Homo sapiens: one gene and its partners. The protein of the gene in region 1 purifies or fractionates together with the protein of each later gene. This does not show direct contact. Each region holds a gene or a part of one and is shown on either strand. Other genes may lie near its edges.

The links.
Region 2: the proteins of NANP (region 1) and ESD fractionate together in Homo sapiens (co-fractionation; one large-scale study listed by BioGRID). This does not show direct contact.
Region 3: the proteins of NANP (region 1) and TIGAR fractionate together in Homo sapiens (co-fractionation; one large-scale study listed by BioGRID). This does not show direct contact.

The regions. Positions count from the first base shown.
Region 1 is NC_000020.11:25,621,215-25,625,329, forward strand, and holds the start of NANP (N-acylneuraminate-9-phosphatase), read right to left. Parts: upstream 2,801-4,115; 5' UTR 2,735-2,800; coding exon 2,645-2,734; intron 1-2,644. UniProt on the Homo sapiens protein: Catalyzes the dephosphorylation of N-acylneuraminate 9-phosphate (Neu5Ac-9-P) to N-acetylneuraminic acid (Neu5Ac or sialic acid). Can also use N-glycoloylneuraminate 9-phosphate as substrate.
Region 2 is NC_000013.11:46,794,362-46,798,573, forward strand, and holds the start of ESD (S-formylglutathione hydrolase), read right to left. Parts: upstream 2,801-4,212; 5' UTR 2,744-2,800; intron 1-2,743.
Region 3 is NC_000012.12:4,348,713-4,352,212, reverse strand, and holds part of TIGAR (fructose-2,6-bisphosphatase TIGAR), read right to left. Parts: intron 2,395-3,500; coding exon 2,317-2,394; intron 947-2,316; coding exon 836-946; intron 1-835.

The DNA.
Region 1 (4,115 bases):
GCCAAATCTGACCAGTCTATTTAAAATGTTGATTTGTTACCCTCTCTGCTTTTTCTATCACACCTGTAAATATTTATTATGTTCACTGCCATACCCACTAAGAAGTAAATTCACAAATGCAGAAATCTCTTCTGCTTTGTTCACTGAGAAACTCCAGGCTTCTGTAGAAAAGTTCCTCTTGAGTAATTACCATGAAAAACAGGTCTAAAGAGGGAGAAAAAAAATAACTTCCCTAGGTGATTAGAAAAAATTAAAGTTGATACATACAGTCAGTATATGACCTCTTCTCCCCAAGCCCAAGGCCATAAATGGCTGGACCTTTCCCTCTTCCTCCATTCATAAATTATTATTATTTTTTGAGACGGAGTCTGGCTCTGTCGCCCAGGCTGGAGTGCAGTGGCGCGATCTCGGCTCACTGCAAGCTCCGCCTCCCGGGTTCACGCCATTCTCCTGGCTCAGCCTCCCCAGTAGCTGGGACTACAGGCGCCCGCCAACACACCCGGCTAATTTTTGTATTTTTAGTAGAGACGGGGTTTCACCGTGTTAGCCAGGATGGTCTCCATCTGCTGACCTCGTGATCTGCCCATCTCGGTCTCCCAAAGTACTGGGATTACAGGCGTGAGCCACCGCGCCCGGCCCATTCATAAATTATTTACAATGATTTGTAATTATAAAGGAGGCAGTAATAGAACCAAGTCTCGAAGTAAAAATTTGTATCCATCCATCCAGCATTTATTCAACATTTGCCATGTGTCAAACGAGGATAATTAAGACAGCTTGTTCCCTCCCAAGAAGCTCACTATTTAGTAGTAGGCACCTGAGTTGCAAAATTAATTGAAATATCCTTTGACAGATGCATTAAGAAATATCTGAACAAAATACAGCACTACTATAAGTGAGGGTGTAAAGACCAGGGAGGCATACGATTTAGTCTTTGTTTTAAAAATATTGCTGTGGCAAGAATGTGGAGGACACACTGGATGTGGTAAACCTGGAGACAAGCCCACAGCAACAGTCTAGGTGAGAGATGAGTTCAGCTGTAACTGAGACATGCACGGGGCATGTGCAGTGGTGGACAGACAGCGTACGAGGGTGGAAGGTGCTATAGTTCGCTGAGTGGACACTGCAACCATGGGCTTCCCAAGTATTACAGGGTTATTGAGGACTAATATAATTCACATTTTATGAAGATATAAGGCTCCGAGTGGTTAATTCCTTGAGGCACTTTCAGCTAGGTTTTGGGAGAGCTGTGATTCATATTCAAATGTCTGATTTTAAAGCCCAAACTCTGGGCCTACAGCAAGAATTGGCCTAAAGCAATAATTTAATTGAAATGCACAGGACTCAGCTTACTAATAACACACAGGTAAATATGTAACATCTGCAGCGAGAGATACTGGAGGCAATATGGCACAGGGTGGCACCCCTGAGGTGGAGGCCAACAAGTTAAAAGTGTGGAATGCCTCAGTAAAGTCATGAAGACAGACTTTAAAAATGTCTACTGATTCCGGCATTTTGGGAATGCCTAGTGATCCAGCAAGTCTATTTCAGTCTAGCGGTGAAGATAAAGCGACATTACGATGGATTTAGTAATAAATAGGAGGTAGAGACAAGGAGATAACGGGTATAGATTTCTCCGGGAAAACATGGCTGTCAAGAGAGACAGGCAACATCTACAGCAGGAAGAATAGCCCAAAGGGAGGCATCCTTTTTACAGCTTTTTTAAAACTATAGGGCAAACATGAATATGCGGCAGGAGTGGAATGCAGCTAAAAAGAAAACGGATGAGGTAGTGGAAGATCCAGGGACACAAAAACTAACTGATGAAGCATGAAGAGGACGGGGCGCTCAGGTTTGGATGAATTAGCTTTTGAAAGTGAGTTTTCCACATCTGATAAATCCTTCCCTTTCCCCTTGAAGCTGAAGGTAGAGAAAGGGAAGCCGGGGTGGACTGGGGCTGGAACACGGGAAGGTCTGAAAGCGCCTCCGCGCGTGTAGAGGGGCAGTGCCGCGGAGGAGCGCCTCAGGAAGGGCATGCCCTCGCAGCACGGGCTTTTGCTGTGTCACGTGTCAGAAAGCCACGGTGACCACCACCCCGCCAGGGAGGCCAGAAGAAGTTCTGCGGCGACAATTCTCTAAAGCAGGGCTTAAGTCCAGGCTCGGTACTGACAGCCGTGTCCCTTCTTGGGTCAACACTGGGGCTAACTCTACCATGTCTCCTCCCAGCAACCCCGAAAGTCGCATGGGGGACACGACCCTCTGTCGAGCTCCACACCGACAGTCTGACCGGGGGCGGGACCAGCGCCTGGTCTCGCGGCTTTGCTGTCGCCTCCCGCGCCCACGGGCACCTCCGCCACCGTGGCAGCCGTCACGGAGCCCTTCCGCGTCCCGAGCGCCAAGGCACCTGCGAGCAGCCGCTCCAGGGCTCGAGATTGGGTGACAAGCGGCCGCCAGGCCAGGGAAAGCAGACCCGCAGGGCCCGCGCGCCTCCAGCCACCTCCGCACCCGCACGCTCCACAGGTTTCAACCAGCAAGAGCGGCCCGCGGCGCCGGGGTGGAAGTGGGGTCAAGGGGAGGTGAGCGTGCAGGACGGGGCGGGGCGCACTGACCCCGCCCAGAGGAGCGCCATGGGTGGGGACGTTACCTCCAACATGCCTCTCCTGCTCGCCCCGGCCGTGTCGATGAGAGTGTTGTCCAAGTCAAAGAAAACCGCCCGCACGCGGCTCAGCCCCATAGCGCCGGCCGCTGGCGCGAACCGTAGCCTTGCCACCGCCGCCTGCGCATGCGCAAGGCGGACTGCCCAGAGAGACGTGGGAGGAGCCGCGAAGTCACCAGACCATCTCCCGGCGCGGGTGGAATTCCCGCGATCTGTCTCATTCCCTGCGCCGCCGAGAAAAGTGAGATCCCGCGAGACTCCCAGGGTATGGTCTCTCAAGAGCCCTGGAAACGTGTGTCGGCGCCGCCGGATGCGGCGACTTCTCAGTGGCTGTGGCTGGCGTTGGTCCGAAGCGTGGTGTTCTTCCCTGGTGTCTTTCTGCTTATCTCTTTCCTCCCTGGGCCCTCCGGCGCGAGGGACCGTCATCACCTCCCCGAGAGAGGTTGTCCGCGCTGCCAGGCGCTGGGCAGCAGGCTCTCCGGGTGGCCGGGCGGGCGGCGCGGAGACGTCGGCGGGCCTGATGTCTGCCTTGAGCGCCCGCGGTCCTAGCCTGCCTGTACGCGCAGGTCACTGTAGGTGATCTGGGGACGGGGGAAGGTGGAGCCTGCGCCTTCCCGCCTCGCGCCATTTGCGGCCTTCGCCGGGGTGGAATCCCTGTCTGCCTGGGCCCGCGCCAGCACGTTTCTGAAGGATGTGACTTGGGTCTCTTACAACCCGTTTAGTACCTGTGCCCTAAGACGGAGGGGCTGTGTAGTGGCTGCCCCATGTTTTGCCCTTCCTGATTGTTTTCCTGAAACCTTGCGTTCTCAGGTCTTTGGATGCCTTTTACTCGGTTGTTTTCAGGCATAGCAAGAGGTTGAGGGACGTCGACCGCCTTTTAAACCCGCGGAAGGGCTGTAGCAACTCTTGTCTCCTAGTGCTGGCAGAACGGGGATCGTAACACTAATCTCTAATCTTTGTCTCTCTTGGGTACCTTTACTGTAATTTGGATATGTGGTCATCATTAGTGACCAGAAATTGACTGTCAGGTACAGGCCAATTACCTGATTTTGTTTAGCCAGTGAGCTAAGTGGTTTTTTTTATTTTTTAATTTATTTTTATTTTTATTTTCGAGATGGAGTCTTGCTCTGTCACCCAGTCTGGCGTGTAGTGGCACGATCTTGGCTCACTGCAACCTCCGCCTCCCGGGTTCAAGCAATTCTCCGGCTTCAGCCTCCTGAGTAGCTGGGATTACAGGCGCATGCCACCACCCCCCGGCTAATTTTTGTATTTTTAGTAGAGACGGAGTTTCACCATGTTGGCCAGGCTGGTTCTCGAACTCCTGACTTCGTGATCCACCCGTCTTGGCCTCCCAAAGAGCTGGGATTACAGGCGTGAGCCACCGCGCCTGGCTAAGGGTGATTTTTACATTTGTAAATGGATTTAAAAAATCAAAATAACAGTGTTTTGTTACACATGA
Region 2 (4,212 bases), on another chromosome or scaffold:
CTTGGCTGTGTGGCCCAGGTTGTAGTACAGTTGCATAATCATGACTCAGTGTAACCTAGAACTCCAAGCTTCAAGTGTTCTCCTACCTCAGCCTCCTGAGCAGCTAGGACTACAGGTGCGTACCACACTGGAATATTTTTTTTTTTAATTTTTTGTAGAGACAGGGCCCTTTACTTATTAAAGTTAAATGTCATCCACCTCCAGAAATCTGAGTTCTATTTTTATCCTTCTTCCCCTGTGTCTCAAGTTTTCCATAAATCTCTACATGTGTTTTTTTGTTCCCATTCTCTCAGATTCCTTGGATTTTGATGTTTCTTCATTTCCAGGATGTCCTATTCCACTGGCTCTTAACAACCTAGACAGGTGTTCCCAAAACCAACAATCTACAGTTCCAATAACTGCTGTTGACCACCACTGTGTTGTTCAAATCCTCTTCTCAGTGAAAACTCAGGATCTGGCTTCTTCCCTTTCACTCTGTCTCCTCCCACCTCCCTTTTCTTTTTTCTTCACACTCTTTCCCTAAACCTCATTCCCTAAATTTCAACTACATTTTCTGGGTGAAATAATCTAAATCTGCATCTCTATAACCAATCTTTCTCAAGCATTAGTACCCATAATGACATTTCTTGCTGGACTCTTCTACCAAGACATGTCACCAGCTATTAAAACTTACCACACCTAAAATTAAGCTTCTGCATCTCACCTTCAAACCATTCCTCTTTTCATTGCCTCTCTTTTTCAGACTCATGCCTGTCTTGCCTAATCTACATTTGAGATGCCTCAAAGTTACCTTCTTTTTGAATTCCCACTGCCATCATCCTAATTATATATAAGAAATTAAAACTTAGCCTCTTCCTTTCTTCCTAATACATCCCACTACGATCAATCCTGCATGAAAGCCTAGGGTTTTAATCCACTTAATTTACTGGTCAACGGATCCCTACCAACAGCTCATCTGCAGCCTAATACGGCCTACGTGGAATTGTTAGTCATTTTTATTTAGTATTTTAAAAACTGTGATAAAAACACATACATAATATTTACTATCTTAACCATTCCTAAGTGTGTATTTCAGTAGTGTTAAGTATCCATTAGTCATATGTAAAAACGCAGTTCGCCAGCTCACAATAATGAGCAGATGAGAACTGCCTCATCACCCCCTGGCTGCTGCAGGTGGAGACTACTAATCCCTTTCGCTGTTAGGCCAGTCGCTGAGAACCAGAAAGTCACTGAAATGGAAGACCATGTTAATTGTACAATTTTCTTCAAGTTTAATGCCATTAAAATTTCATAAAATTAAAACCATGCAGGATCACTGAAAAAATAGATGAATAAAACTCCATATAAACTTCAGTCACACTCTACCTGTGTGCAAACACAGTCTTTTTTTTCTTCTTTTTTTTTTTTTTGAGACAGGGTCAAACTCTGTGGCCCAGATTGGAGTGCAGTGGCCTGATCTCGGCTCACTGCAATCATCTCGGCCCCCGGGCTCAGGTGATCCTCCCGCCTCAGCCTCTGGAGTAGTTGGGACCACAGGTGGCACCACCATGCCCAGGTAATTTTTTGTAGAGGAGGTTTTGCCATGCTGCCTAGGCTGGGTCTCTTTTCCTTCATAAAAATTCACATGGCTTGCCTAGGTAAGGATTTCTATTAAACTCTGGGGAAAATTTTTTAAAAAAAATATAGCATCTATAAACGCCAAACACCTTCACATGGCTCTAAATATGGTCTATAATTTGGTCCCAGATTATTTTTCTGGTCTCACTCCCTATTTTGTTAGTTAAACTCAACTATGCATAATTCTAGGATGGCCTGGATGTTGCTATCGGGTGGCTTTACTCAATGCCACGGTACAATGGTTTCAGAGCAGGTTTTGGGGCCAGACCCTCCGGGTTCAAACCCTGACTTCACCACTTATTACTACATGACACTGGGCAAGCTAATCTATGCCTCATTTGCCCATCTGCAAAATGGGTATACAGTAATATATATCAATTTGATAGGGTTGCTCTGGGAATTAAATGAGTTAATTCACGTAGTGCTTAAAATGCTGCTTCTACCACACACACAAACATGAGCTATTATTTTTCCTGCAACCTGAATGCCCTCTCCTTCCAGGTGCGCTCAATCCCATTTCCCTAATGACCCCATCAGAAATGACTTCCAGTCCCCCACAGCGCTCTGAGAGCATTTTACGACCCGAACAGATTTTGTCAAACTCCAAAGACACGTGCTCCCCTCGGCACCATCAGGTGAGTGCTCCTGACCGCGCCATTGGCTCGTGCCCCGACGCGGACGCTGCCTAGAGCAGCAGGTCCACACTCCCCCGAACCAGGCGCCGGCGGCCGCTAGTAACGCGTTGAGGCCAGCTCCCTCCTTAAAATGCGTACACATCTACTTCACATTTTCGCGCGGTGGCTGCGGGTCTAGGAAAGTCTTTCTGAACAGGAAAAAGCTGTACAAATGTAGCGGGCAGTAGGTAAACGGGCGCTCGCCCCGGGTTACACTAGGTTGGAGGCTCAGAGAAGGAAAAGGGATTAGAGGCGAGGCTCCGGGTCACGGGAAAAGGTCCTTGGCCTCCTGTCATGGATGGTGGCGCCCAAGGCCCAGGGTCGCCGTCTCTGCGCTCGTGCCTGCGGATACCTGCACCGCAGGACTCGGCGTCCGCCCCGATCACGCCTAGCCGTGCCGCAGCCGCAGGAAGGCTGACAACGTCCAGGCCTCTACCCGAACCCAGTCTTACCTACGGTGGCGGAGTGACCAGAAGAAGCGGGCCGAAGTAAAAGGCGGGGCTCAAGATGGCCGCCGGGGCCTCGCCTCAGCCCCGCCCATATGATGCCCCGCCCCTCCGGTCCCACTCACTCTCGCTTTTAACTCCGAGAACCCGCTCTTCTCCAGTTCAGTCTCCATGGCCCCGCCGCCTTTGCACATTGCACTTCCCGGCAGCCTCCGCGTGGGCGCCCCCTCCAACTCCTGCCTTCGCCCGCGTTTCTGCTCTGTGTGGTTACTAGGACCAACGAGGAGGGCGTTAGGTTAGTCCCTGTCACCTTGTCGGGGATCAGTCTGCTGTGCGTGCTCAGACTCTTCCCAGAGCCAGCAGCAAGAACCCGAGGCATTAATAAACTTGAGATGTAGCTTCGCTTAACTCGTGCAGAGGGTTTCCGTGTCACTTATGTAGAAACTAGGGCCTAATTTCAACTCCCTCAACTCCTCTGTCCCAAGACTATCCACGTCACCTACTTGGTAGCTTGAGTTAAACAAGAAACCTTTGAAATCTCCAGTGGCCGACACGCAGTGGGAACTCCATCAGTTTTCTGTTTTCTCCCTTCTTCCCTCAATAAAAATTAAGTTGAACTGACTAAGATTTGCTAGTTGATAATTTACAGCAAATCTTTCCTTTTGGTCTCTCTGATTTAAGCAAACTGTTGAGTGTACTTTGCCTCTTGAGAAATTAAATCTGATTACAACAGAGCTAAGTATTTTTCAGCAACGGTTAGACTGACATTGTAAATACACAATCTGATAGTTGGGGCTGGCCTCATGGGCCTGCAACCTGTGCTATTACCCGGCCCCCAGAACAGAAGGACGCTACATTTTCTCTCAGTAAGTGTTGAACCAGGGCCCCACGTTTGTGTCTGGAATTGGGCCCTGCAAATTGTGTAGCTATGGGAGCTGACTTAAGTATGGATGAGCTGCCACACAAGAGATTACCTGCCAGAATCTATTGTGTGGCTCAGGCCCATTTTGCCATAGTGATCTTTGGACTAAATTAACCTGTGGACTGAACCTGTGGATCAATTGGAACTTAGACTGAAAATAATGTTTCATCAAAATAATGTTTTTATTTTGAGAAAGCATTGAAGTAAATTGTTTTAAACTTTCTTTTTACTATCTTTAAGTATAAATCATTGAAAAGGGGATTTTCTTCAGTTTCAAAACTGAAACAGAATAAATACCTAAATTGCAAGTTCTTTATAACTGATGTTTGAACAAAGAGAAATAATTGATTAAATGATATATTTGCCTAATAAGTGGACTGCTGTGAGGTGCAGACTAGCCAAAGAACTGTAAGTGTGAAGTTCTTTACTAAAGGGTTCTTGTGTGAATACAATGTGAGAATAAGCAGAACTAAAATTTCTTTTACCCAGCATAAATAAAATGTTAATAGATCCACAAAAGTCGATTGCTTAAAAATATTAAGAATATATATAA
Region 3 (3,500 bases), on another chromosome or scaffold:
CCTTAAAACGTTAACATAGAACATAACTGACTGGATTTTTTTCTAATATTGAATGCCAAGTACTACACAAGCAGAAGAATATCAATCTACATTTCTATTCGTTCAATCAGTAGTTTCATGGACATATATAAGTATCCACCACATTTCTGGAATTACAAAAGCACCATGGAGACCAAGATGAAGAAGATCCAATTCCCAATTCCTGAGTTCAAAGCACTCACGGTCTAGTTAGGGAAATCTACAAGCCAACAGAAACTCATAAAACAGTGCTAACCAGGAAGCTGTCTCTGGCACTTCAGTGCCACTGGAACAACAGCAGCAACAAATCCTTCCCTTACTAAAGTAATGGAAAGTATTTTCAAGAAAATTAAGATAAAGATTAAGGAGGTGGTGGTGGGTTAGGGGGAATCACCAATATGCAATTCGAAGCAGAACACTCCAAAGAAATGCAAGCACAGGGATGCCACCATGAACAGAGCTGAGGAGGCAGCAGAGGCTTGAAGACTTCATGTTTTGAGTTATTTCACCTCGAGTGACTTGCCGATCACCCTCTTTGAACTCCACTCCCACCACTAAGCCACTGCTTCATATTCAAAGGTCTTTTTTAGAAGTACCATCTAATAACACCTTTCCTTAAGTCCATTATCAATAATGACAAAGGCAACTGAACAGTAAATAAGATTTTAAATAGAAAAGAATAATTTGCTAAGTAAATAGATAATTTAAAATGGAAAAGAGAATGAACCAAGCAACTTTCAAACTGCTTAGCTAAAATTCCAAAACATCTAATTTTGAGTCTTAATTCAACCATTCTGACATCGGCAGCGCCACATACCTGGTCCAGCGTCTCTCCTCCGGGCGGTGTAAACACAGGGCACTCTTCCCTGGCTGCTTTGGCCATGGCCCTCAGCTCACTTAGCGCTTTGCCTTCTACAACCCCGTATTTCTGAAACAGTCCAATAGATAACAGTTTCTCAAATGAAATTGCAATATAACAATTAAGTTTATGTTTATGGCAAATTTAGAACATTCATCCCAGGAATAAGCTAACTCTCCTCCACTTAATTGATTCTATCTCCTCTGAACTGATAATGAGAATGTACTCAGTAGAGGGCCATGAACCTTAGAAAATATAATTGAAATCTTAAGTTGTACACTATGTCCAAATGGGTTATTTTAGAAGAACTTGCTATTGCAAGCAGATGGTGGGAATTTATTGAACAAATACAGAGATTTGCACAGATTATAGGACTAGAGATTAACATGCACAAGGTACCAATTCAGCCATCTCCCATCCACACATACTACACCATTTGATCCCAATGACAGCACCATGAAATAGCTAAATAAATATATCACCATAGTTATAAGGAAGTTGAGTTTCAGAGACGCTAACATGAGAGATCTATTTCTTTTTTTTTCTTTTTTTTTTTTTTGAGACGGAATCTCGCTCTGTCACCCAGGCTGGGGTGCCGTGGCGCGATCTCAGCTCACTGCAACCTCCGCCTCCTGGGTTCAAACGATTCTCTTGCCTCAGCCTCCCGAGTAGCTGGGACTACAGGCGCGTGCCACCACACCCGGCTAATTTTTTGTATTTTTAGTAGAGATGGTGTTTTACCATGTTAGCCAGAATGGTCTCAATCTCCTGAACTCAAGTGATCTGCCCACCTTGGCCTCCCAAAGTGCTGGGATTACAAGCGTAAGCCACCACGCCAGCCACATGGCAACATTGTTAAGCTATTAAATTGGAAAATCACAGAGTCTAATAATACCAATTGTTGGTGTAAAAAAACAAAACTTTCTCCTAGGTCATTCATGGGACTATAAATTGGCACAGGTTTTCTGGAAGGCAACTTGGCAATATGTATATAAATGCCTTTAAAAAAGTACACACTCGCCGATGTCCATTTCTAGAAATATATAGGTCTACAATAAATTAACTACAAAGATGTTTATTTTGACATTATTTACATCAGTGGTAGTCTAGTGAAAATCTAGCTTTCCATCAGCGTAGCTAGGTTACATAAATTATGCAATATCCATATTTTTCACCTTTACTTTAAACTCTTCTATACTGTGTTAAGTTCTTATGAGCGTACCTTCTTTTATACCTTAAGATGCTTGTCTCGTTTGATTTTAATAATAAGATCCTATATACGAGGGTATGTAACAGTGACTGTCATATGGTAGATTCTTAAATATTTTCACTGATTCGAAATCCCTAGCAGAAATGCATTTAACTTTTAGCCAAGTGACAAACTGAGGTGGCTTACTGATAATTTATGGGGAAGAACAATATGTAAATAAGTTACTCACCCTTTCCCGAAGTCTTGAGTCATACTTTACCGTCATATCTTTGCAAAATTTGCTTCTCTCCAAAATTCCATGCATGGTCTGAAAATCAAGACAATTGTTTCTTTCTTTATAAAAATAATCACCATTCTGGTGGAAGCACTGAAAGAATCTATGTCATCTTAGTGAATAAAAAAGAACTAGAACCAGGCACGGTGGCTCACACCTGTAATCCCAGCACTTTGGGAGGCTGAGGCGGGTGGATCATGAGGTCAGGAGATCGAGACCATCCTGGCCAACATGGTGAAACCCTATCTCTACTAAAAATACAAAAAATTAGCCGGATGTGGTGGCACGCACCTGTAGTTCCAGCTACTCGGGAGGCTGAGGCAGAAGAATTGCTTGAACCTGGGAGGCGGAGGTTGCAGTGAGCTGAGATTGCGCCACTGCACTCCAGCCTGGGTGACAGAATGAGACTCCATCTCAAAAAAAAAAAACAAAACTAGAAATGATTTTCCTTTGCAAAAGTTGCCTCTCTGTGTACATCTGTGTACACATCTGTGTCTCTTCATTCCTGATTTTGATATTCTCTTCTAACCTATCTTTTAGTTCAGAAGTCAGCACAATCCAGACCATCATCTGCTTTTGCAAATAAAGTATTTTACTGGGACACAGCCACAGCATTCATTCATGCACAGTTGATGGCTGCTTTCTTGCTATTACCGCAGACTTGAACAGGTGTTAACAGAGACTGTATAGACTATAAACCCTAAAAAAAAATTACTATCTGGCTCTTTACAGAAAATGTTTACTAATCCCCATTCTAATTCCTTAATTCGCCATTCAAATGTGTCTAAATTGTTGTTAAACCCATCCATTGAGCCTTAATTCCAATTGTATTTTTAGTTCTAGAATTTGCATTTGGCTCTTTTTTACAGTTTATTACAGTTCTGTACTGAAATTCTACATCTTTCACCTATACAAAAATATAGTTATTTTAAAGCTCATGTCTGGTAACTCCATCGGGTAAGTCATGTGGCTGTTTCTGTTGTCTTTAGCTCATTTTTATTCACATTTCCTTCTCTCATTGTAAGTCTAGCAATTTTTGATTGACAAGCGACCCTGTCACATAGAAATAATTTAGGTCCATGATCTGCCTTTTTTAAAAACACATTTCCCAACAAATTAGACATCATCATCATACTGTT